Linked DNA regions of Homo sapiens. The protein of the gene in region 3 interacts with the protein of the main gene of each other region in a pairwise test. Each region holds a gene or a part of one and is shown on either strand. Other genes may lie near its edges.

Region 1 (7,019 bases), on a different chromosome or scaffold from region 3:
GGGTTAAATAAGGTCTAGGGACAGGACAGTCAAGGTTGGTAGGGCCTGAGGGCTGCTTTCCTCTCTCCCCACTCCCACTCCCTCAGGGCAAACTCACCACTTGGACGGTGCCCACCTTGGGCACGCTGTAACCCTTCCTCCCCAAGGGGTTCAGATCCACGATGCCCTGGAAGGCCAGGGAGCCATCAGTCAAGGTGGGGACTAGGAAAACCCTGGGCCCTAAACACATGTCCCTCTCCACAAGCTCTCACCCTGAACCTGCCCCTGCCCTACAGTAGAGTTCTCCTCACCTGGCCCTGACTCACTTCTAGGTGAGGAATAAGTAAGAAATACCTCTTGCCCCCTGGCCCCGCCCCCAAATCCTCATCCTCTTGATGAGCTGACTTTGGGGTTGGAGTCAAGGCATACCAGGAAGGGAGCCGGGGCATTTTGCTCAGAAACATCAAAGAATGTGACAGTGACAGGCAGCGTGACGTGCTGGGGGCAGTATGACCCACTAGCTCCAATTTCTGCTGTGAAGCCCTCAATGTGGCCAGATGGTGCAAAACGTCCTCGCAGCAATGATTCCTGGGATTAGGGTAGGGAAAACACATGAAGAGAGAGATGCCAATTCTTTTCCTTATCCATCCAAGCCACATTCCACCATCCCACCTCTCCCAGGACCCCGGCAATCACAAACCCCAACGGGAGCTACCTCAAAGTTGCCCAGCAGGGTACGGCTGACAGCAGGGGTAGGAACAGGGGAGGCACTGGGGGGGCTCAGCAGGCCTGGCCCCTTCCGGAGGCTTCGAAGGGGGCTCCTGGTAGAGGAAGGGAAACACAGGGGGTTGGCTTGAGGTATTCTGGGATTCCTGCTTATGCCCTTGGACTCCACCCTCTGCCACTATGTAGGGCTTCTGCCCTGGGGTCCCCTACTCGGATGCTGGAAAGAGTACAGACTTCTGCCCCCATTCTCAGGGACAGGGTAGAGGAAAAAGCTGGTCACTTACAGCTTCAGGCGACGGGCTCCTTTCAGCCTCCGCCCCATGGGACCGCAGTCTGTTGGGTCCTACGGAGAGAAATGATTGGGAAAAGACACAGGGTGAAGGCCATGTATGTTTTGGGGCAGAAGCTCATCACAAACTCTCAAAGGAACACCCTGCCCCCCAGGCCTCCACCTTTACCCACACAAATATCCACTTAAGAGTACATGAAGGACAGGCGCAGTGGCTTGAGCGCCTGTAATCACAACACTTTAGAAGGCCAAGGTGGGTCGATGATTTGAGCTCAGGAGTTCGAGACCAGCTTGGGCAACATGGCGAAACCCCATTTCTACCAAAAATACCAAAAATTAGCTGGGTGCAATGTCATGTGCCTGTGGTCCCAGATACTTGGGAGGCTGAGGTTGGAGGATCCCTTGAGCCTGGGAGGAGGAGGTTGCAGTCAGCTGAGATTGTGCCACTGCACTCCAGCAGTGATGGAGTGAGATCCCATCTCAAAAAAAAAAAAAAAAAAAAAAAAGTAAAAAAAGAGTAAATGAGGTCCTTTATTGGCTTACCAAAACAGGCTCTTTGGGCCCAGGCAGCAGGTGGCTCCAGAAGGGTGTGGCTTTGGCATCAGAACTGTTGGCAGCAGTAGGGTGGCCCAGGGATCCCCGGCGCCTCCGAGGGGCTGGCCCCTCTTCCTCAGAGCTGACATCTGGGGCTTCTCCAGCAGGAAGCAGCCTTCGCTTGGTGGGGCAGGGGCCTGGGGGTCCAGGGCCAGGGGGTGTGTGCTCGGGACTGTGCCCATTGGCAGTGCCAGGGGACTCCCTAGGCCAGAGGCTACCCCCATTGCCCACCCCAGCCACTGGGCTCTTACCCCCTATTTGTGCAAGACTGTGCAAATCAGTGTCAAGTGTGTGCAGCTGGCCTGGAGGGGCTGGCCCTGGGGACTCCCCCAGGGACCCCTGTCCCCCTGGATCTGGGGAGGCCCAGTCTCTGGTGTGCAAAGTATTGCAGGAAGCATTTGATGGGGGGCAGGGGGGACTCCAGGCCCCCGAAGTCCAAGATGAGGTGACACTACTTCTCTGTTCCACAACACAGAGGCCACGGTGGGAGAAATGCTGGCTGGCCACACCTAGTCCCAGCCCCGGTCCCTCTGGGCCTAAGAGCCCCACAGTAGATGGTTCTTCAGGGGGTAGTCCCTCTCTGGCCCCCAGCCCAGGGCCTCTCTTCAGCTCCCGGGGACCCTCAGTGGATGGGGCTTGTCGTTTCAGGGCCCTATGAGGCTCAGAGGTACCAGCCGGAGGGGAAAAGATGGATACCTGGTAGACCCCGGGGGATGTCGCCCCCCCTGCTGGGCTGTAGCCCATGAGCAGGCCACCCTGGAGGGCCCCCTGCCTGACTGGAGGCTGTGAAGGGCCAGCCTCCGGCTCTGAGGATGGAGACGGCTCCGCCTGCACGTGGCGCATGAAGCCCCCCTTGGGTCAGGGGGGCCCCCCAACACGGCCTTTATGCTGGGCCTGGGCTGGGGGGCCTGGGGACATCTGTGTAAGAGAAGAGAAGAAAAGGTGGTCAGGGGAATCAATGAGTCTTCTTCCTTCCAGCTGAGTTTCAGACCCTCTCCTTGCCTAAAGGGGTGACTTTGATGGGTTCCCAAGGATGAATGTGTACAAATCCCTGGATGGACTAATGGAATATAGAGACCACTCTCAGAACTCCTGAGAGGGTGACAGGTTTAGCTCAGGCTTCTTACTGGACACACTTCCCCCTCTTCTCCCTGGTACTTACCCCGATGAAGAGGCCTCAAGCCTAGCTGTGCGTCCCCTCTTCCCAACTGATGCCTCGTGCCCCTAGCTTGCAGTCTGATCCATGCCTGCTGCACTGGCAAGGTGACTGCCACCATTCCGTGCAGCTCCTGAGCTCAGCAGGACCCTGAGGAGAGAAGAACAGACGTAAGCCAGGATCACTGGAGCCAGCGGTAAGGCCTGTCACCAATTATAGGCTAATAGTACACTCCAGGACATCCTTCTCCCATGTGAGAGGCTCTTCAGGAACAGAAAGGGTAGGCTTGGGGTCCAGGGCACAGATGGCAGAGTTGGGCTACCTAAGGAGTCAAAGAGGCAGGTCTTGGCTCAGTATAATAAGGATGTGACAAGTGAGTTGAGGTAGAATAACTACTTGTCAGGGCCACCATTTGAGGACTCCTGCCCTACATGGAGGAAGGGATGAGAGACCCCCAAGATCCAAGAGACCGTGTCAGCTGAGAGGCGGCCAGGGGAAGAATTCAGCTTTCTTACTCAAAGCCACCAAATTGCACAACTCCTTCTTATATGTCTATCTCCAAAGGGACAAGTGCCATCCTAGGGCACTAAGGGCAGAGGTCTCCCACACAGTTATACCCCATCAGCGGTCCTCAGAGGTACAAATTTCAAGTCAGCTCAGAGCTGGCCTTTCAGCCCTGAACTCCAAATTGCCTCCAGCAGCCTGTCTCTTTAACAAGAGGCAACAAATCCGACCAAAAACAAGAAGGGGAAGGGGAAGGGGTCACTGCCAGAAGGCACTTTCCAGGGCCCTCCCGCAAGGCCCTGCAAACTAGAGATAAGGCCGCAGCAGTCAGTCAGCTGGAAGCAACTAGGGAGTACCTCTCCACGCCCCTCCCCCAGTGCTCACACACCCAACACCAAAACCCCAAACCACGGGTGCATAAGATGGTCTTCACTAACTATTCCAGCCCATACTAGGGTGAGGGGAATGTCAAGTTGAAAGCCAGCTGCCCCCAGGGTCAGCCTTCTCTTTTGCTGTCTGACATTCACGGTGCTCTTTCCCCTTCAAGAAGTGCCCTTTGAATGCCTACCCAAGACTTTTCCTCCTTGGATAGGTCAAATGCCATCTCCTCCAGAAAGTCTGCTCTGTCCACCCCAGACCATAAGCATCTCTCCCTTCTCTGAGACCTCACCTATGGCAGTGTTACTACTTCCTGTAAGCTCACTAACAGTTCTGCTCACTCCTGTGGGTAAGGCATCTTCTAGACCGACCATAGAGTTCCTGAGGACAGATCTGTGTCCCACCCCTCCATCCAACCCCAAGTACAGGGGTAAGCACACAGCAGGGCTCAAAAAAAGTAGAATGCAAGTCCCAGACATCTGAGCAGCAGTCCTGAGAGTGGAGAGAAAAATTTCCCAGATGAGAGAAGCAGAGAGATTAATTGTACAAGGGAAAATCAGGAACAGAGGTGGGGGTGGGGAGCAGGCAGAAAGGAGAGATTTGTACCCAGGGACTGAAAAGCTCTCCTACACCAAGTTCCCATCATTGTACCCCACTATCCCATTTCACCAAATTCTCCTAAGAATTGGGATCCCTAAGAAAATCCTGGTTCCCTGTGGTGGGCGGGATGGCTGGAAAGGGCAGAACACCAATCGCAACCTGCACTATCCTACCTGCAACCAACCTTGTCAGAAGGTACAACCTGCACTAATTTCTACCCTTCTTTCCTCCACCCAAGCCATACAGATTCAGGAGGGGCCTTTTCCCTAGCACCACCACTTCCAGGTCATCCCAGTTGCCCTCTTGACCCCTTGCCCTGGGGAAGCCAGGGGATGACATGATGCCCTACTTGACCCCAGCATACCTGGCATCTGCTTATTAACCCCAGAGCCCTCTCAGTTCCCACCCTGTCAACAAGACGCTCTATATTCACTCCCCTGCCACCCAGCCAGTCTGGCTCTAGACCATGGCTTCAAGCTGACTCATGGGGCAGGACTGCAGGGGAGGGGGGCAGGGCAGAGTAGGCCAAGCCTCACTCTTCGTTCAGGGGGTGGGCAGCAGCTGGCATCAAACAGCTGTGCCAGGCTGTGGCTGGCAAGGACTACAGCTCCCAACATGCTGAGGGAGCAAGGCCAGCAAAAACAACAAGTCCCAGAATACGTCTGTACCTTTAGACACTTTTGAGGCCTGGGAGGTGGGTGAGGTGGGTATTGGTATAGGTATCAGCTTCAAGGCTCATTCTCCCCTTCCCTTCAGTATTAAAGATTTCCATTTCTACCATGATCAAGGAGAGTGACAGGATGAATTCCTATCCATGTGCTTTCCACCCTCATCCTATGCAAAGAGAACTGCTGCCAGCTGCTCTCTATTTTGTCCCTACATACATCCACACAAGCTAGGGGGGCTGTTCCCACGGACCACCACTGTGGGTAGGAAGGTCGACTTCTTCTCTCTTACCAACCCCTCGGCCCCCAGCCTAGAGCCCTCTATCTTCAGAGGGGAGAGAGCAGACCTTAGCAGACTCTCTAAACTAAGCCAGGCAGACTCACCTGACTCCTGGACTCCTTCTTCTGGACGATCCCTTACCCCCTGCCCAGCCTCCCAGGTCCCTTCTCACTCCTCTCCTCCCCACAGCCTGGGACAGGCCCCATACTATACTGGAGCTTCGGAGATTTGCTCTTTCCCTCTAGCACACTCACCCCGCTCCCAAATTGGCTCCGCGGAGGTGGCCGCTGCTCCGGGCCCTTCCGTCCCGTCCCGTCCCGGTCCCTCCCCTTGGTTCCCCGGTCCTCCCTGCCACGGGCCCCCAACCCAGACAAAGGGTGGCTCAGGCTGAGCCCTGCTCTGCTAGGCTCTTCGCTGTTCAGCTTCGTGTGCAACACTAGCGGGCCCTGGCGCCCGCAGCCCCCCAGCCGCTGCCGCGCCCCTCCCTGCGACGGTCCCTCCCCGGGGCCGCCCCGGCTCCGCGCCGCCGACTCCACTGCCCCTCTGACTCACAGGCCATTTCCTACCAGCTGATGGGGCCGCCCGCCCCGCCCAGTGCCCCACCACCCGCGCCGCGGCGGCCACGGCCGCCACGCCCCCCTCAGGCTACGCCCTCCCTGGAAAGCGACCATGCTCATTGGTCCATAGGAAGCCAGCCTCCCCGCGACCTCAAGTGCGAGGCACGCCCCCTCCAAGAGGCACACGCCTATTGGTCCATAAGGGGGTAGGCTTACCCAAGGTCGCTCCGCCCTTCTCCTTAACCCGACAGCTGCCGGAGTCCAAAGCAACACCCTGCCCTGCCATTTAACCCTTTCAAAGGCGTAGGCCTTCCACATCTTACCCCTCCGCCCTACTCCCCCGCCCTTCCTCCTTCCAGGACGGTTAATAGGAAGCCCGAGGGCTTTAAAGATACGGTTTGACAACCCTCAAAGTCTGCCTGCTGTCTATACCAGACCCCAGACCCCAAATACCTCACTCCCATTTGTCTTTCCCCACCTTCCAAACCAAAGCTTCAGAGCTGGAGAACTAGTGAAGCCCAGGAAGCTTCCTCCATGCCAGAGAAGAAAAAGGCCTGAGGTGGGACCCTATCTCCTTCCATGTTAAGAAGTGGTACTTTTCCCTCTGTTACTCTTAAATTGATGTTCTTTTGCCTTCTTTAGAGGAGCCCCACGGGTTCCTAAGATAGGGATACATTTTAATCTCAGGGACCAGCATTATTCTTTGTGCCTCTGAACTCCCTTTCTGAGATCAGCCTGCCAGCACTCTTTCTACTCACAGGCCCATGTTCAAGGAGACAGAGCATACAGGGAAGTGGGATAGGAGAGCTTCTGCCCAGAATGGGGGAAATGAGCCCAACTCTTGTGATGGAGCTCAACCCCATGACTCACAGCTCCCTCAAAACTATCCACCCTCCCACTGAGTCACTGGGCCCCAGCCCAGTTCAGACCCAGTCAAATCAAATGGCAGCAGAACCGGCATCCCTAACCCTTGTCCTCCTATTCTTTAAATGACCAGGATGGAAACCTTTGCAAGGATTGAGCATTCAAAGACACTTTCTAGAGGGTACTCTAGAGGTAAACTAAGAAAAGCAATAGTCCTGTCTACCCTGCCCTCTGCACTTGTCAGCAAGTCGGATAATTTGGGACTTAGGAGGCTTTTTCTCCCGGTCCTTCACAGAAGCAGGAGGCAAACACCAGAGCCAAAGAGGGAAAGTCCATTCTTCTACAGTTCAGAGGCCACAGAGAGCCCAAGGTCCTTGTTTCTGCCTTGCCTGTGCTGTGGACCCCCCAGGGCCCTGAGGTTATATCA
Region 2 (7,649 bases), on a different chromosome or scaffold from region 3:
TCTATGGCAAACCATATAGGTTTTGTGTTTTTAAGTACACAAATGATTTATGCTATCATTCTTGTCATTAAAAAAATGAAAAAATGTCGAGTCATAGAGGATTAAAAAATACTAAAAAATAGCAAAGCTCTGAGAGACTGGTGCCGCATTTCTCTCCCTCTCTAAGAAGTTTAGGGGATGCCACACGCTGTTCTGGGTATTCCCACATGTAAAGATGCAGACGATGTAGAGGATTGTCTAGTGGGGGCTGTAAACATGATTGGTATCCTGTCTGCTTAGCACATCCATCTGTAGCTTGGTTTTCTCCCCCTACATCATGTCTCAAGGATCATGCCGGTCCCTACAAACCTCCCTCTTTGTTGTCAACCCTGCAGTGTGTCCCATAGGAGGGATGGACAGGCTTTATTCAGCCATTCCTCTACTGGCGGAGTGCTCAAGCAATATAGTAGCTAAAGCATCCTTGGGCATGCTTCTTTGAGCATGTGAGCAATAATTTCTCTAGGGTAGCTACTGAGGACAATTGATGGGCCAAAGGATGTGTTGTGTTTTGTTTTTTTTTTGTTTGTTTCTTTTTTTGTTTTTTGTTTTTTTTTTTTTTGAGACAGAGCCTCGCTCTGTCACCCTGGCTGGAGTGCAGTGGCTCGTACTCGGCTCACTGCAACCTCCGCCTTCTGGGTTCAAGCGATTCTCCTGCCTCAGTCTCCTGAGTAGCTGGGATTACAGGTGCGCCCCACCATGCCTGGCTAATTTTTGTATTTTTAGTAGAGACAGGGTTTCACCATGTTGGTCAGGCTGGTCTCAAACTCCTGACCTCATGATCCGCCACCTCGGCCTCCCAAAGTGCTGGGATTACAGGCATGAGCCACCGCGCCCAGCTGCCAGGACATGCATTTTTAAATTTAGATAACTACTATCTCACCCTCCAAAAACACTATATGGATTTATCTTCCCATCTGTCATGTATGAAAGTGCCCATTTCCCCATGTCTCCCCCAACACTGGGTATTATTTATTTTTTATTTTATTTTATTTTTTTTTTAGACAGAGTCTCGCAGTCGCCCAGGCTAGAGTGCAGTGGCATGATCTCGGCTCACTGCAGGCTCCGCCCCCCGGGGTTCATGCCATTCTCCTGCCTCAGCCTCCTGCGTAGCTGGGACTACAGGTGCCCGCCACCTCGCCTGGCTAATTTTTTGTATTTTTAGTAGAGACGGAGTTTCACCGTGTTAGCCAGGATGGTCTCGATCTCCTAACCTCGTGATCTGCCCGCCTCGGCCTCCCAAAGTGCTGGGATTACAGGCGTGAGCCACCACTCTCGGCCAAGATATGCTTTTCTAACAGGCATATTACATTACCAGAAAATAGCTTCTGGGCAGTTTTAGGTAGTGTGTGCCAGTGCCAGTGGTCCCCAACTTTTTCCCCCACTGTGGTGGGCAGGAAGTCCTGTGCCCCTTCCCAGTGCCCCTCAGCTGGTACCTGCTGCTGTTCCTAGGTTTTGGGAACTCGGCACCTTCAAAGGAGGCAAGCACAGAGGCAGGGCGGGCAGCGCTGCTGGAGCGGGCGCTGCGGGACCTGGAGGTACAGAATGCCGTGTTGGTGAGCCCCTCGCTGAGTGGCCACTATGCCCTGCCCTTCCTGATGCGAGGCCACCACCAGCTACATGGATTTGTGCCCATCGCACCCACCTCCACCCAGAACTACACCCAGGAGCAATTCTGGGCTGTGAAGGTACTGGGAGAAGGATCTCAAAGGTCCTGGCACCCTGTCTGTGGCTTGGGGGGGTTCAGGACTCAAGTCTTACTTGGAGGGACATGGCCTTATCCCTGACCTTGGATGGAAGAGTTGGATGGTGTTGGGGAAGGCTTCCTAGGAAGTGGCTTGGGGGTCAGAAACTCATCAGGCCCCAAGATCACAGCCCCCTGCCTTGCCCTGCAGACTCCAACCCTTATCCTGTATGGAGAGCTGGACCACATCCTGGCTCGAGAGTCACTGCGGCAGCTCCGCCACCTGCCCAACCACTCTGTGGTGAAGCTACGCAATGCAGGCCATGCCTGTTACCTCCACAAGCCGCAAGACTTCCACCTTGTCCTGCTTGCCTTCCTTGACCATCTACCTTGAACTAACCCACTCCCAGCTCCCAGCCTGGCATGAGCTTGGACAGTCTGGACCGCCACCCTCCCTGAACCAGGGAGACAGCCTCTGGGATTGGAGGCCAGAGGCCAGGGTCAGACCCAGCCAGGACTCCTCATTTCATCTCACAGACACAATAAAAAAGCATATTTGTCCTGCCTGGGAAGTGACAGGTTCCGTTTCCTGGTGTGCTGTGGGAAAGACGGGAGTGGGAGGCAAGTCTGGGACTACTTTGGGCCTGGGAGCTGGAGGGGATGTCCAGCAGTCTGAGAAGGCTAAGAATGCGCCACTTCCTAAGTGCCTGGCCTCACCACTCTGTGCCTGAGTTTCCTTATCTGTAAAACGGGTATGATGGCAACACCTAGGTTGGAGGGTGGTTATAGGACTGAATGAGTCTGGATAACTGAGTACTTGGCCACATAAGGCTGGGGAATTGCTGGTGGGAGGCGGGGTGTATTACTGCTGCTGCATGACCACAGGGATTGGTGGGAAATCCAGGGTCTGGACAGCCAAGCCAAGGAAGTCAGGAACCTAGAGGGTATGGGGAACGCGATTTAACAATTAGCCAGCATTGGCCGGGCGCAGTGGCTCACACCTGTAATCCCAGCACTTTGGGAGGCCGAGGCAGGCGGATCACGAGGTCAGGAGATCGAGACCATCCTGACTAACACGGTGAAAACCCGTCTCTACTAAAAATACAAAAAATTAGCCGAGCGTGGTGGCGGGTGACTTTAGTCCCAGCTACTCAGTAGGCTGAGGCAGGAGAATGGTGTGAACCCGGGAGGCGGAGCTTGCAGTGAGCCAAGACCGAGATCACACCACTGCACTCCACCCTGGGTGACAAAGCGAGTGAGACTCCGTCTCAAAAAAAAAAAAAAAAAAAAAAAAAAAAAAAAAAAAAAAAACCAGCATTAGCTGGGCACTGTGGCTCACATCTGTAATCCCAGCACCTTGGGAGGCCAAGGCGGGTGGATCACCTGAGGTCAGGAGTTCAAGACCACCCTGGCCAACATGACAAACCCTGTCTCTACTAAAAATACAAAAATTAGCCCAGCGTGGTGGCACGCACCTGTAATCCCAGCTACTCTGGAGGCTGAGGCAGGAGAATCACTTGAACCCAGGAGGCGGAGTTTTCAGCGAGCCGAGAAGGAGCCACTGCACTCCAGCCTGGGCAGCAGAGTGAGACTCCATCTCAAAAAAATAAATAGCTAAATAATTAGCCAGCATTGTTATGAGTTAAAGTCTATTTGCCCGCATGAATAAATAGGTAAATAATTAGCCAGCATTGTTGTGAGTTAAAATCTATTTGCCCGCATGACAGAGTGAGACTCTGTATCAAAAAAATAACTAAATAAAGAATTATCCAGCATTGTTATGAGTTAAAGTCCATTTGCCCCCATGTTATGTGTGAGCAGCCAAGACTTAAACCTCAGGAAAGGTGGGACAGAACCCTTCCCACAGCGTGCCTCCTTGGCCTAGAGATTGAAGTCTTTGTCCCTCACCCTTCCCCAAGCTGACTCAGCCCCTGGAGCAGAGGGCAGACCTGGCTGGGAGTACAAAGGGCAGCTGGGGCACAAGTGGGCAACTGCAGCTGTGGCCTGCAGGGGGCCAGTGGTACACCTGTGCCTGTTTAGCCTCCCCCTCTGGTGGCTGCAGAAGAGCCAGTTTCCTCACACTGTCCATCCAGGGTCACAATTACATCCATTCACAGTGACTTCATCACACCCACCCACCATCTCACACTGTCACATACACAATCATATCCACTGATAGACTGCACACGCAGTGGCACGCTTAAACCGTCACACGTGCTCTTGTCCATGCATTCATTCCCATTCTAGGCACTGTCCGGGCTCGGCACGGCCCCGGGCAGAACCTTGCAGGAAGTGGAGCTCACAGCCTCCTGGAGTTCAGTGTGGGCAGACAGACATTGGCCAATAACTTCAGTACAAGTGGAGCTGAGGCGTCAGGGAGGACCTCCCCGAGGGGCTGAGGCCTGCAGTGGGGAGCCGTTGGAGACTTGCCGAGGAGGGCGAGGGCGCAGGCCCAGGGCTTTGCAGCTCTGCATCTTGAGAGCCTCGGGGCGGCCCCCTTTCCTCCCGCCCTATCCGGGGGCTGAAGGAGGAGGCGCCCTTAGGGGACGGGACCGTCCTGAGCTCCCGGCGCATACCTGGGGGCAGGAGTGGCAGGCGTGTCGTGTGGGGCGGGGCGAGCCTGTCAGAGCAGGGCCAGCCCGGAGCTCGCAACTCGCGGGGCGGCGCTGGCCGCGGCGGCCGCTGCCCGGGGACGGGATCCGGATCTAATCCTCCAGTAATCTCGCTGAGGCCCGAACCAGAGGCGGGCGGGGACATCCGCGCCGACGCGGCCGCTGGCGCCGGGACGGCCCTCACTGACGGTCTTCGGTCTCCGCCCCGACATCCGGCCTCGGCCACGTGGTGGGCGGACCGGGGCGGTCCTGAGCCTGCGACCTCGCAGGCGACCTCGCTGGACCCTAAGTCCAGGCCACAGTCAGGGAAGGGCGCTGAGAGGCGAGCGTGAGCCCAGCGACAGGAGAGTGAGGTGGGGGCCCTGGGGAGGGATAGAGGGACTGGGGCTCCGTGGCTTGAAAGCCGGGCAACTGGGAGGCGTTGGGGTTTTTCTTGTTTGTTTTTTGTTTTTGTTTTTGCCTTTTTTTTTTTTTAGGAGGGCGGGGGGAGTACAAGTCTGGGTTCAAACCTTGCTCAGCTACTCTATGAGCTGTCCTTGAACCTCTCTGAGCCTCTCAGCTTTCTCCTCTGTAAAGTGGGCATTCTGAGCACAAACTTCATGGGGCTCTTTTGGGGATTAAATAAGGAAATGTGCTGGAAGCAGACAGCCCAGCGCCTGAAACAGAATGGGTGCTCCTTAATGGGGGCTCCGAAACACGGTATCCTACCCCTGTGGGAAGTCCGGGAGCCGCCGTGGGGACAGGCTGTGTGCAGGAGCTCACCATTTCCAGGGTCTTGGAGGGGTAGTTAGCCATTCACTTTGCCCCCAGCTCACCACGCGCAGCGCCATGACCAGCAAGGGTCCCGAGGAGGAGCACCCATCGGTGACGCTCTTCCGCCAGTACCTGCGTATCCGCACTGTCCAGCCCAAGCCTGACTATGGTGAGAAGACGGTGGTTCCAGAGCCTGTGACGGGGCCTAAGGGACGGGGACTGTGCTCTAAACCAGCCTCCAACCCCTGTCACCCAGCTGAGCCCCACTCTGCTGTCCCAAATGGCTCCCCAACCCCTCCAGCCATTCCCCAAGTAAATAGACTGAGGCAGCCCCTCCAGGTTAGGGAGGAACCCTTTCCCCAGAGACTCTGCTGCTGACCAAGGTTACTCCTGGCAGCTGGTTAAAGAAAAACTTCACCTCACTCTCCAGGGCAGGAGTGGTGGGGGAAGCCTGAGGCAGCCACAGGGAAAGGAGAGGCCCTCCAGAAGCCCACTGGGGCTGGACAAAGGCCACAGCCCTTAGGGAGTCAAGCTTGGTGGCTAGGGCCTGGGAGGTGGCTCCTGCCTGTTATCCCAGCACTTCAGGAGGTTGAGGCTGGCAGATTGCTTGGGCCCAGGAGTTCAAGACTAGCTTGAGCAACATGGCAAGACTCTGTCTCTACAGAAAAAATACAAAAATTAGTCAGGAATGGTGGCACACCTGTAGTCCCAGCTACTCCAGAGGTTGAGGTGGGAGGATCGCTTGAGCCTGGGAGGTTGAGGCTGCAGTGAGCCGAGATCGCACCACTTCACTCCTGCCTTGGTGACAGAGTGAGACCCTGTCTCAAAAAAAAAAAAAAAAAAAGGAAAAGAAAAAAAAAAAACTTAGTGGCTGGGAATTGTGTACATGGGTCCAAATTCCTCCTCTGTGATTAATCAGCTGAGAGATGGTGGGTGAATCTCTTCATGTCTCTGTGCCATAGTTTCCCATATTTAAGGAAGATAACACCTTCCTCCAACCCTGTGTCCAGACATCCCCCTGGACTTCCAGAAAGGGTCACTGAGTAGCCAAAAATATCTTCTTTCTTGGGGATGGAAATGCAAGCATCTCTGAGGGATATGGAGTGTGTCGGGGAGGCAGCAGCCCATTTCTGGGTATGCTCCACTCTCCGGGCTGCCTGGGCTGGTGGGAAGCTGTGGGTAGGCAGAAGCAGCCCCAAGACACTCTGTGCCTCCAGGAGCTGCTGTGGCTTTCTTTGAGGAGACAGCCCGCCAGCTGGGCCTGGGCTGTCAGAAAGTAGAGGTGAGCCTGGGGCCCTAAGCGGGGAAGGGAGGTGGGCCTGGGCACTTCCTCACCCTGCTCAGACCACCTACCCTCCTGACCATCTCCAGGTGGCACCTGGCTATGTGGTGACCGTGTTGACCTGGCCAGGCACCAACCCTACACTCTCCTCCATCTTGCTCAACTCCCACACGGATGTGGTGCCTGTCTTCAAGGTGTGTAAGGGGCTGGGGAGGTGGGCAGTGCAGGCCTTGGGGACAGACATGATGCAGACCCCAGGATTCAACCTCAAGTTGCTCATGGTCCTGGCCCCAGTCCTGACACTAACTCTCAACATCCTTATGACATTACACCACTCAAGCAGCCTTCATCCAGCAGCAAGTTCTGGGCCAGAGTGGGGTGGGGACTGGGGGGTGGGAAGCAGGAGACAGCAATGGGGGATGGCAATCAGCTGCCTTCTTCAGCCCCCGTCTTTCCTCTCCCACCACTCCACCTGTCACTCCAACCCTATGGTGGGCTCCTAGGGCAGGGCCACTGTTGACCAGAGTGGATTAATGGCTAAATTTGGGGTTTGGGCCCCTCTTCCCATCCCTGCCCCCAGGAACATTGGAGTCACGACCCCTTTGAGGCCTTCAAGGATTCTGAGGGCTACATCTATGCCAGGGGTGCCCAGGACATGAAGTGCGTCAGCATCCAGTGAGTGTCCTCCATTCCTACTCCTCCACAATGTCCCCACTGGTCCAGTGGATTGAAGCAGGACCTGAGGGGGTGATTGGAGAAACTCAAGGCCAAGGAACACCGTGACCTCTTGGACAGGAACTACTGCCATGACCATTGCATGGATAGGGAGATTCAGACCAGAGAGGGGCAGGGACTTTCTGGAGTCCCTATCAGGGTGTGGCAGGGTAAAGTCCAGGACACAGGACTCCAGCCTGCTGGCCCTGCCTGTGGGGCCAGCCTGCGCATCTGGTGGCTCCCCCAGCACCTGGCTTATGCCCCCTCAGGTACCTGGAAGCTGTGAGGAGGCTGAAGGTGGAGGGCCACCGGTTCCCCAGAACCATCCACATGACCTTTGTGCCTGGTAGGAGTGGCTCAGATACCTTTGGGAAAGGGGAGGGTGGGGCGGGGCAGCCTCCTCATCTCACGTCCCTGCTGCTTTTACAGATGAGGAGGTTGGGGGTCACCAAGGCATGGAGCTGTTCGTGCAGCGGCCTGAGTTCCACGCCCTGAGGGCAGGCTTTGCCCTGGATGAGGGTGAGCAGGTTGGCAAGCCAATGAGCAGCCAGGCAGGGAGTAGGAGGCT
Region 3 (7,019 bases):
GAGACCTTCTTAACTGTGGGTGTCCCCTCGACCTTGTACTAGTCACCTTGTTTCTCTGCTTCTTCGTGCTTAGCCTTGGCTGTGTACTCCTCCTTGTTGGCCCTGTCTCCCTTGCCCAGGTTGCAGATGTCATGGGGCAGCTTGTTCATCTGAGTGTCCCCAGTGCTTGGCACCCAGAAGCCATAAGATGAGCCCCTGTGGGATGAGTAAATGAATCACCTTGGGAGGGTCAGCCGCAGGCTTCTGTGGGTGGGTGGGTGGTGCACTGGGCCCCAGAGTACAAAGATGCACATGACCCGCTTCCGGCTTCCTAAGCCCACCTCTGCCTCTGGCTCTGTGGGGCGTCTCCTCCTTTGCCACTCAGCCCCAGAGGTGCTTCTGCTTCCCTGCAGGCTTGCCCTGGAGCCTGGCGCTAGGGCCCTGGGGCTCCCTTGCTCCTGCGTGCCCCCTGCGCCTGCCTTCCTGCTGCCTGGCCTTTCTCCCATCTGCTTTCTTCCTGAGTGGCCCCTGGCCAGGGGACTCGGGTGCATACATGGTTTCCAAACGCCTTTCCTCCAGCCCTCCCGACTAGTGTCTTAAATCTCAAGCTGGCCTCTCTGGCTCCGCTGTTTTTTTTTTTTTTTTTTTTTTAATTTAATTTAACTTTAAATTCCGGGATACATGTGCAGGATGTGCAGGTTTGTTACATAAGTAAACCTGTGCCATGGTGACTTGCTGCACTTGTCAACCCATCACCTAGTTGTTCAGCCCCCCGTGCATTAGCTATTTATTGTATACACCAGCTGAGATGCCAGGGCTTGGCTGGCTCTCAGCTGGAGGGCTCACTCTCTGGACCTTGTGTCCGTCCCTGCTGGCCCTCAGTTCTCTGGATCAGGGTTGAAAGGCTGAAATTCTTTGGGTGTTAGCTTAGGATGCCTCTGATCCATCCTAACCCGACATTCCCTTGATCTCTCCTGATCTGTGAGCATCCTGGCCCTTCTTTTCTTTTCAGTTTTAATTTTTGCGCTGGCTCCAACCCCTTTTCATTCCTGACTCTGGAAGTGACACTTGTTTTTCTCTTGGGGTTTGGGAAACTTTGTGGTTGTTCTTTCTAGGAGGCTGCTCTTTGAGTCATTTCTTTTCCATATTGTTTCTCCTACTGTAGCAGGGCCATGGCCAGGGATAGAGGCTGTAGCTCCCACTGAGACCTCGGGGTCTGGTGGAACCCGGTCTTGTGTGGGTGCTGTCGGCCTCTCCTGCTTTCCCACCTGCCTCACGGTTCACTTGTGTGCCTCAAAGGCACACATGTCCTAGCACTCCAAAGCCCACCAGGGTGGGCTCCCAGGGGTGAGGTCGAGGTAGACCGGGAACCCAAGAGAGCTGGTGGGCCTTTCTTCTACCCCTCTCCCCTCACAGTCTCAGAGCAGCCCCTTCATGGGAGATGGGAAGTGAGGGACAAGGTCTCAGTGTCAGAGCCGTCCTTGTTTGCCCTTCCCCGTGCCTCTTATGAAGCTCAGGCCTTTTGGCAGTCAGAGGCCTCAATGGTGCCTGTGTCCACAGGGCTGGCTGTCCTCACCGTGAAGTCTAGATCTCCCTGCTAACTTACACTGTGCTCAAAACACACACACACACACACACACACACACACACACACACACTGGCTGTCCTCACTGTCAACTCTAGATCTCCCTGCTAACTTACACTGTGCTCAAAAAACACACGCACGCACGCACGCATGCACGCACATACACACACACACACACACCCATAGGCTGGCCATGGTGGGAGGCCAAGGTGGGAGGATCGCCTGAGCCCAGGAGCTCGAGGCTGCAGTGGGCTATGATTGCATCACTGTACTCTAGCCTGGGCCACAGAATGAGACCTTGTCTAAAAAAAAATTAACAGAAAACACCCCATACGTGGAAGTGTGGTATTCACATAATATGATGTTCACTTAAATTTGAATCCTTTGGTTTAAGTTTAGATTACTCTTAATTATCTTTTTAAATGACAAGCTCGTTGAAAGAATAAAAAATCAAAGACGGCTTCTATTTAAAGGAGAATAGGAGAATGCTTAGGGGACATGTGTTCTAATTTTCTCTTCATTAAAAAGTCATTTAAGGTTATAATTAAAAAGAACATCTTTTAATTAATTTTTATATTTATTAAAAAAAAGTCTTCTATTGAAAGGTACAGTTCTTAGTTCTTCCCGTGTTAACTCACTCGGTTCTCTATAACCCCAAGAAGTAAGTGCTGTTATTGTCCCCATCTAAACTGTTGAGGAAACTGAGGCATGGGATTAAATGACTTCTTCAAGGGCAGAGTGGCTGGCAAATGGGAGACCCAGAAAACCTTGGCAGTTGGGCTTCAGAATCTTCACGACCAAATTACTCTCTCTGCTTCAGCTGGTTCCGGATTCTTCCCCAGGGATGGTTGTGTCCTGCAGGGGACGGCTGGCAATGTCTGGAGATGCTTTCTGTTGCCACAGCTATGGGACTGGGGTATTGGCATCTGATGGGCAGAGGCCAGTGGTGCCCAAGGCAGCCCCGCAACAAAGAATGATGCAGGCCGGGTGCAGTGGTTCACGCCTGTAATCCCAGCACTTTGGGAGGCCGAGGCAGGTGGATCAGTTGAGGTCAGGAGTTCGAGACCTGCCTGGCCAACATGGTGAAACCCCATCTCTACTAAAAATACAAAAATTATCCCGGCATGGTGGCAGGTGCCTGTAATCCTAGCTACTCAGGCTGAGGCGGGAGAATTGCTTGAACCTGGGAGGCAGAGGTTGCAGTGAGCTGAGATTGCACCACTGTACTGCAGCCTGGGTGACAGAGTGAGACTCTGTCTCAAAAAAAAAAAAAAGAATGATCCAGCCCCAAGTGCCACCAGCAGTGAGAATAAGAAACCCTGATTCAGGCATGTTCTGTGAAAGTCAAGAACGTAGGTTGACAGAGTTTGTTTTGTTTTTTAAATGTCTTTCTGAATAAATAAAAACTGTTCTGAGTGAGTTTTGTAGTTCCTTTGGAAAGTATTCATTCTGTTTGTTTACATTTGTGCGCCTGCTGTGGGCCAGGCATGAGGCTACATGTCTGAGGGCCCAGCTTCACCTTCTAAGGGCTGGGAGGCTCTTTCTATGCCAGCCTGCCTGCCAACAAGGCTCAGCTTCCACTGTTAAGGGTCATTTTGTGGATTTTTTTATTTTTTATTTTTAGGTTGAGTCTTGCTTTTTCGCCCAGGCTGGACTGCAGTGGCGTGATTTTGGCTCACTGCAACCTCCACCTCCCAGGTTCAGGAAATTCTCATGCCTCAGCCACTCAAGTAGCTGGGATTACAGGCATGTGCCACCATGTCTGTCTAATTTTTGTATTTTTAGTAGAGATGGGGTTTTGCCATGTTGCCTAGGCTGGTCTCGATCTCCTGGGCTCTAGCGATCCTCCCGCCTCGGCCTCCCAAAGTGCTGGGATTACAGGCGTGAGCCACCGTACCCCGCCACTCCATGGATTCTTGAGGGCAGAGTTTTTTGGAGCCAGGCTTCAAGCACATTTGATGTGTGCCTATGAGATAAAGACTGCTTTTAATGGCAGGCAAGGAAAATGCAAGTCCATCTCTTAACTTTCTTGAAGAAGCTTGAGACACAGCTCTGCAAGGGGCTGGAAGGTTTCATGTTATTGCCAATGCTTGGTTTATCTGATTGCTGTTGCCATTCATTTTGAAGGAGAAGCAGGAGTTGGTATACCAATATTCCCACTGTGCCAGCAGAGAGCGGGTTATCCTTACTAGAGAGCCAGAGAGTCAGAACGGTTTTTTTTTGTTTTTTTTTTTTTTTTTTGAGATGGAGTTTCACAATTGTTGCCCAGGCTGGAGTGCACGATCTCAGCTCACCGCAGCCTCTGCCTGCCGGGTTGAAGCAATTCTCCTGCCTCAGCTTCCCGAGTAGCTGGGATTACAGGCATGTGCCACCACGCCAGGCTAATTTTGTATTTTTAGTAGAGACAGGGTTTCTCCATGTTGTTCAGGCTGGTCGCGAACTCCTGACCTCAGGTAATCCGCCTGCCTTGCCCTCCTGAAGTACTGGGATTACAGACATGAGCCACCGCGCCCGGCCACAGAGCTGCTTTTTTTTGCAAGTGATATTGGATGGTGGTTGATGTACAAAGTAGGAGTTTGTCCTTGCTACTGATACCGTAGCTGGTACAAGGTTTTAATCGTTCTCCAAGCACTGTCACAGGTGTCATGTGTCTCGCCTTTTCAGCAGCTCTGTGAGGTGGCAGTAGCCCTGAGGAGACTGGCTGGACTCAGCTAGCATGGGCTGCTCAGGTCTTCAGCGTGCTGAGTGAGGCATTCCTGCACTATGACAGAGACCCAGCTGCCAAGACTTTGTCAAACAGACCAGAAGCCAGCAGTTCATGAAAAGACCTTGCTTGCAAGTTGTAGAATTTTTTAGAAAATTCGTGCTCTCTGTATTTATTTTCTGTAAAATAATTGATAGGGAAAGAATGTTCACATCTTATCATCTAGATGTTGCTGATTAAATAATATAACTTTCTGGGTTGGCATGAGTAGGTGAACTTTTAGGAAACGCAGCCTACCCTTCGAATACCTCTTGTAGCACCTGGCTGTTTCCCTTTTGAAATAATTGTATGTTTTCCTGGATACCTTATTACCTGGTGACACGTGTTTCTAGTTATTGACCTATGTTTTTAATTATAACTTTGGGTGGTGGTCTGAAATGAAATGTTAAGTTTGACGCAAAAATAGGACTAGTTTGTGTAACTGATTTGTTCAGAATAACAGCTTACATTTCTCAGAGCTTTTTGTATGCCAAGTGCTATGCGAAACCCTGGATGTACAATATTCTTATAGTAGCCCCTGAGACCAGTGCTAGGATTATTTCCATTTTGCAGATGAGGGGATGGAGATTAAGGAGTGGGGTCACTTGACCAAAGGTGCACAGCGCACAGCTAGATGCCCTATGGGAAGGTCTTACTGCATCTCTTAACTACCTCTTGGGACCAGTTAGGAACCAGTGCTTAATGAAACACTTTGAAGTTACATCTGTGGAAAGAATAAACATTTTAGCTGGGCAAGGTGGCACGGGCTTCTAGTCCCAGCCACTCAAGAGGCTGAAATAGGAGGGTTACTTGAGTCCAGGAGTTCCAGTCCAGCCTGGGCAACATAGTGAGACCCTGATTCTTTAAAAAGAAACACAAATAAATAAACATTTTAAGAGATTATATAAATTAGATATTATGAATTTTGTCCCTACATCGTGGAATAAAACCAAAACAAATACACAGCAAAATGCCTCTAGATTTATTTATTTATTTATTTATTTTTGAGACAGAGTCTTGCTCTGTCGCCAGGCTGGAGTGCAGCGGCGTGATCTCGGCTCACTGCAACTTCTGCTTCCCTGGCTCAAGCGATTCTCCTGCCTCAGCCTCCCGAGTAGCTGGGACTACAGGCACGTGCCACTGTCCCCAGCTAATTTTGTATTTTTGGTAGAGACAGGGTTTCACCATGTTGGCCAGGATGGTCTCCATCTCCTGACCTTGTGATCTGCTCCCCTAGGGCTCCCAAAGTGCTGGGATTACAGGTGTGAGCCACCGCTCCCGACGGCCTCTAGATATTTTGAGTGATTCAGCAAACCTCCTAAAGTTGACCCCGTAGCTGGGGTCACAGTCCTCTTTCTCCTTCTTCCCCCTACTTCCTTCTTATATCTGGCTATCTGGGAGAGAAAAAATTTAATACAATTGATTACTTTTTAGAAGAGTTAATTTTTACTTATTACTGTGGATTTTTTGTTTTTTAACAGTCACACCGAGGAGAAGACTCAGTGGGAACATCCAAAAACTGGAAAAAGAAAACGAGTGGCAGGAGGTTTGTATGTTGTTGTCTAAGGATCTTGGATGGAAGCATTAAGTAGATGAGGAAATGTCACTGGCAGAGAGGTGACAGGTTATTGTGTGTTTAGGGAGGGCTCTCTGGTAGAGAACCAGACTCCCACTCTGAGGAGCTTATGGGATTTGGCAGAAGAAGATGATGAGATCATAGGGTGGAGTGAGGATGATTTCTTACTGGTCTTAAAGTACCAAAATGGCCAGATGTGGTGGCTCATGCCTGTAATCCCAGCACTTCGGGAGGCCGAGGCGGATGGATCACCTGAGGTCAGGAGTTTGAGACTAGCCTGGCCAACATGTTGAAAGCGCATCTCTTCTAAAAATACAAAAATTAGCTGGGCATGGTTGCATGCGCCTGTAATTCCAGCTACTTTGGAGGCTGAGGCACGAGAAGTGCTCAAACCCAGGAGCTGGAGGTTGCAGTGAGCCAAGATCACACCACTGCGCTCCAGCCTCGGTGACAGAGTGAGATGCTGTCTGAAAAATAGCGACAACAACAACAACAAAAACCAGAAAATAATTGAGGCCTTTGATTCACAGTTTATGATGTTTTCCTATCGTTGCAGTGTTTATAAAATTGTTCTTGGCTATACTATGGAATTAAATATATAAGTATTTGGAAATTTCGTAAAGATTACCATGACTTCTAGGTGATTCTGAGATAATGTATGATCCACGGAATAGAAGTATAAGAAAGGGACAGGCACGGTGGCTTGTGCTTGTGATCCCAGCCCTTTGGGAGGCAGAGGTGGGAGGATCACTTGTGCCTGGGAATTCGAGGTGAGCCTAGGCAACATAGTGAGACCCCATCTCAAAAAAAAATATGAGAAGGTTCCTGCCCTTAAGAGGTTTAGGATCCAGCTGAAGAATCAACATGTGCACATGAAAAAAAATGGCCGTGCCCTCTAATGTCATATGAGGTCAGCGTATGAATGACGTTGGGTGCCTGCCCTGCATATACATATGTTCTTTGAGCTCATTCAAGGGAGAATTCCCATGGATTGGCACAACCAGTATGGTTTATAGAGCGATCAGGAATAAAATAGGTTTTCTTCAAAACAAGAGGCAAAAATGTGGAGCCCAGGGTGGGATCAGGGGCCTTCTGCAGCTGTCGCAGTTGGAACATGTGACGAAAGCCAGTTGATG

The links.
Region 1: the proteins of WWOX (region 3) and ATOSB interact in binary tests that used the Homo sapiens proteins (3 or more experiments, as listed by UniProt).
Region 2: the proteins of WWOX (region 3) and ACY1 interact in binary tests that used the Homo sapiens proteins (3 or more experiments, as listed by UniProt).

The regions. Positions count from the first base shown.
Region 1 is NC_000009.12:35,105,844-35,112,862, forward strand, and holds part of ATOSB (atos homolog protein B), read right to left. Parts: intron 6,550-7,019; exon of another isoform or gene 6,487-6,549; intron 5,814-6,486; exon of another isoform or gene 5,724-5,813; intron 5,610-5,723; exon of another isoform or gene 5,426-5,609; intron 5,373-5,425; exon of another isoform or gene 3,817-5,372; intron 3,788-3,816; exon of another isoform or gene 3,362-3,787; intron 2,895-3,361; 5' UTR 2,751-2,894; intron 2,507-2,750; 5' UTR 2,432-2,506; coding exon 1,538-2,431; intron 1,049-1,537; coding exon 990-1,048; intron 801-989; coding exon 695-800; intron 568-694; coding exon 409-567; intron 167-408; coding exon 98-166; intron 15-97; coding exon 1-14. UniProt on the Homo sapiens protein: Transcription regulator that may syncronize transcriptional and translational programs.
Region 2 is NC_000003.12:51,978,905-51,986,553, forward strand, and holds the start of ACY1 (aminoacylase-1), read left to right. Parts: upstream 1-4,630; 5' UTR 4,631-4,685; intron 4,686-5,142; coding exon of another isoform or gene 5,143-5,160; coding exon 5,161-5,254; intron 5,255-6,302; coding exon 6,303-6,367; intron 6,368-6,456; coding exon 6,457-6,561; intron 6,562-6,947; coding exon 6,948-7,042; intron 7,043-7,350; coding exon 7,351-7,427; intron 7,428-7,510; coding exon 7,511-7,600; intron 7,601-7,649. Other genes in the region: protein ABHD14A, read left to right, coding at 1,489-1,724, 1,932-2,114; ABHD14A-ACY1 readthrough (NMD candidate), read left to right, coding at 5,143-5,254, 6,303-6,367, 6,457-6,561, 6,948-7,042, 7,351-7,427, 7,511-7,600. UniProt on the Homo sapiens protein: Catalyzes the hydrolysis of N-acetylated amino acids to acetate and free amino acids.
Region 3 is NC_000016.10:78,102,635-78,109,653, forward strand, and holds part of WWOX (WW domain-containing oxidoreductase), read left to right. Parts: intron 1-5,788; coding exon 5,789-5,853; intron 5,854-7,019. UniProt on the Homo sapiens protein: Putative oxidoreductase. Acts as a tumor suppressor and plays a role in apoptosis. Required for normal bone development. May function synergistically with p53/TP53 to control genotoxic stress-induced cell death.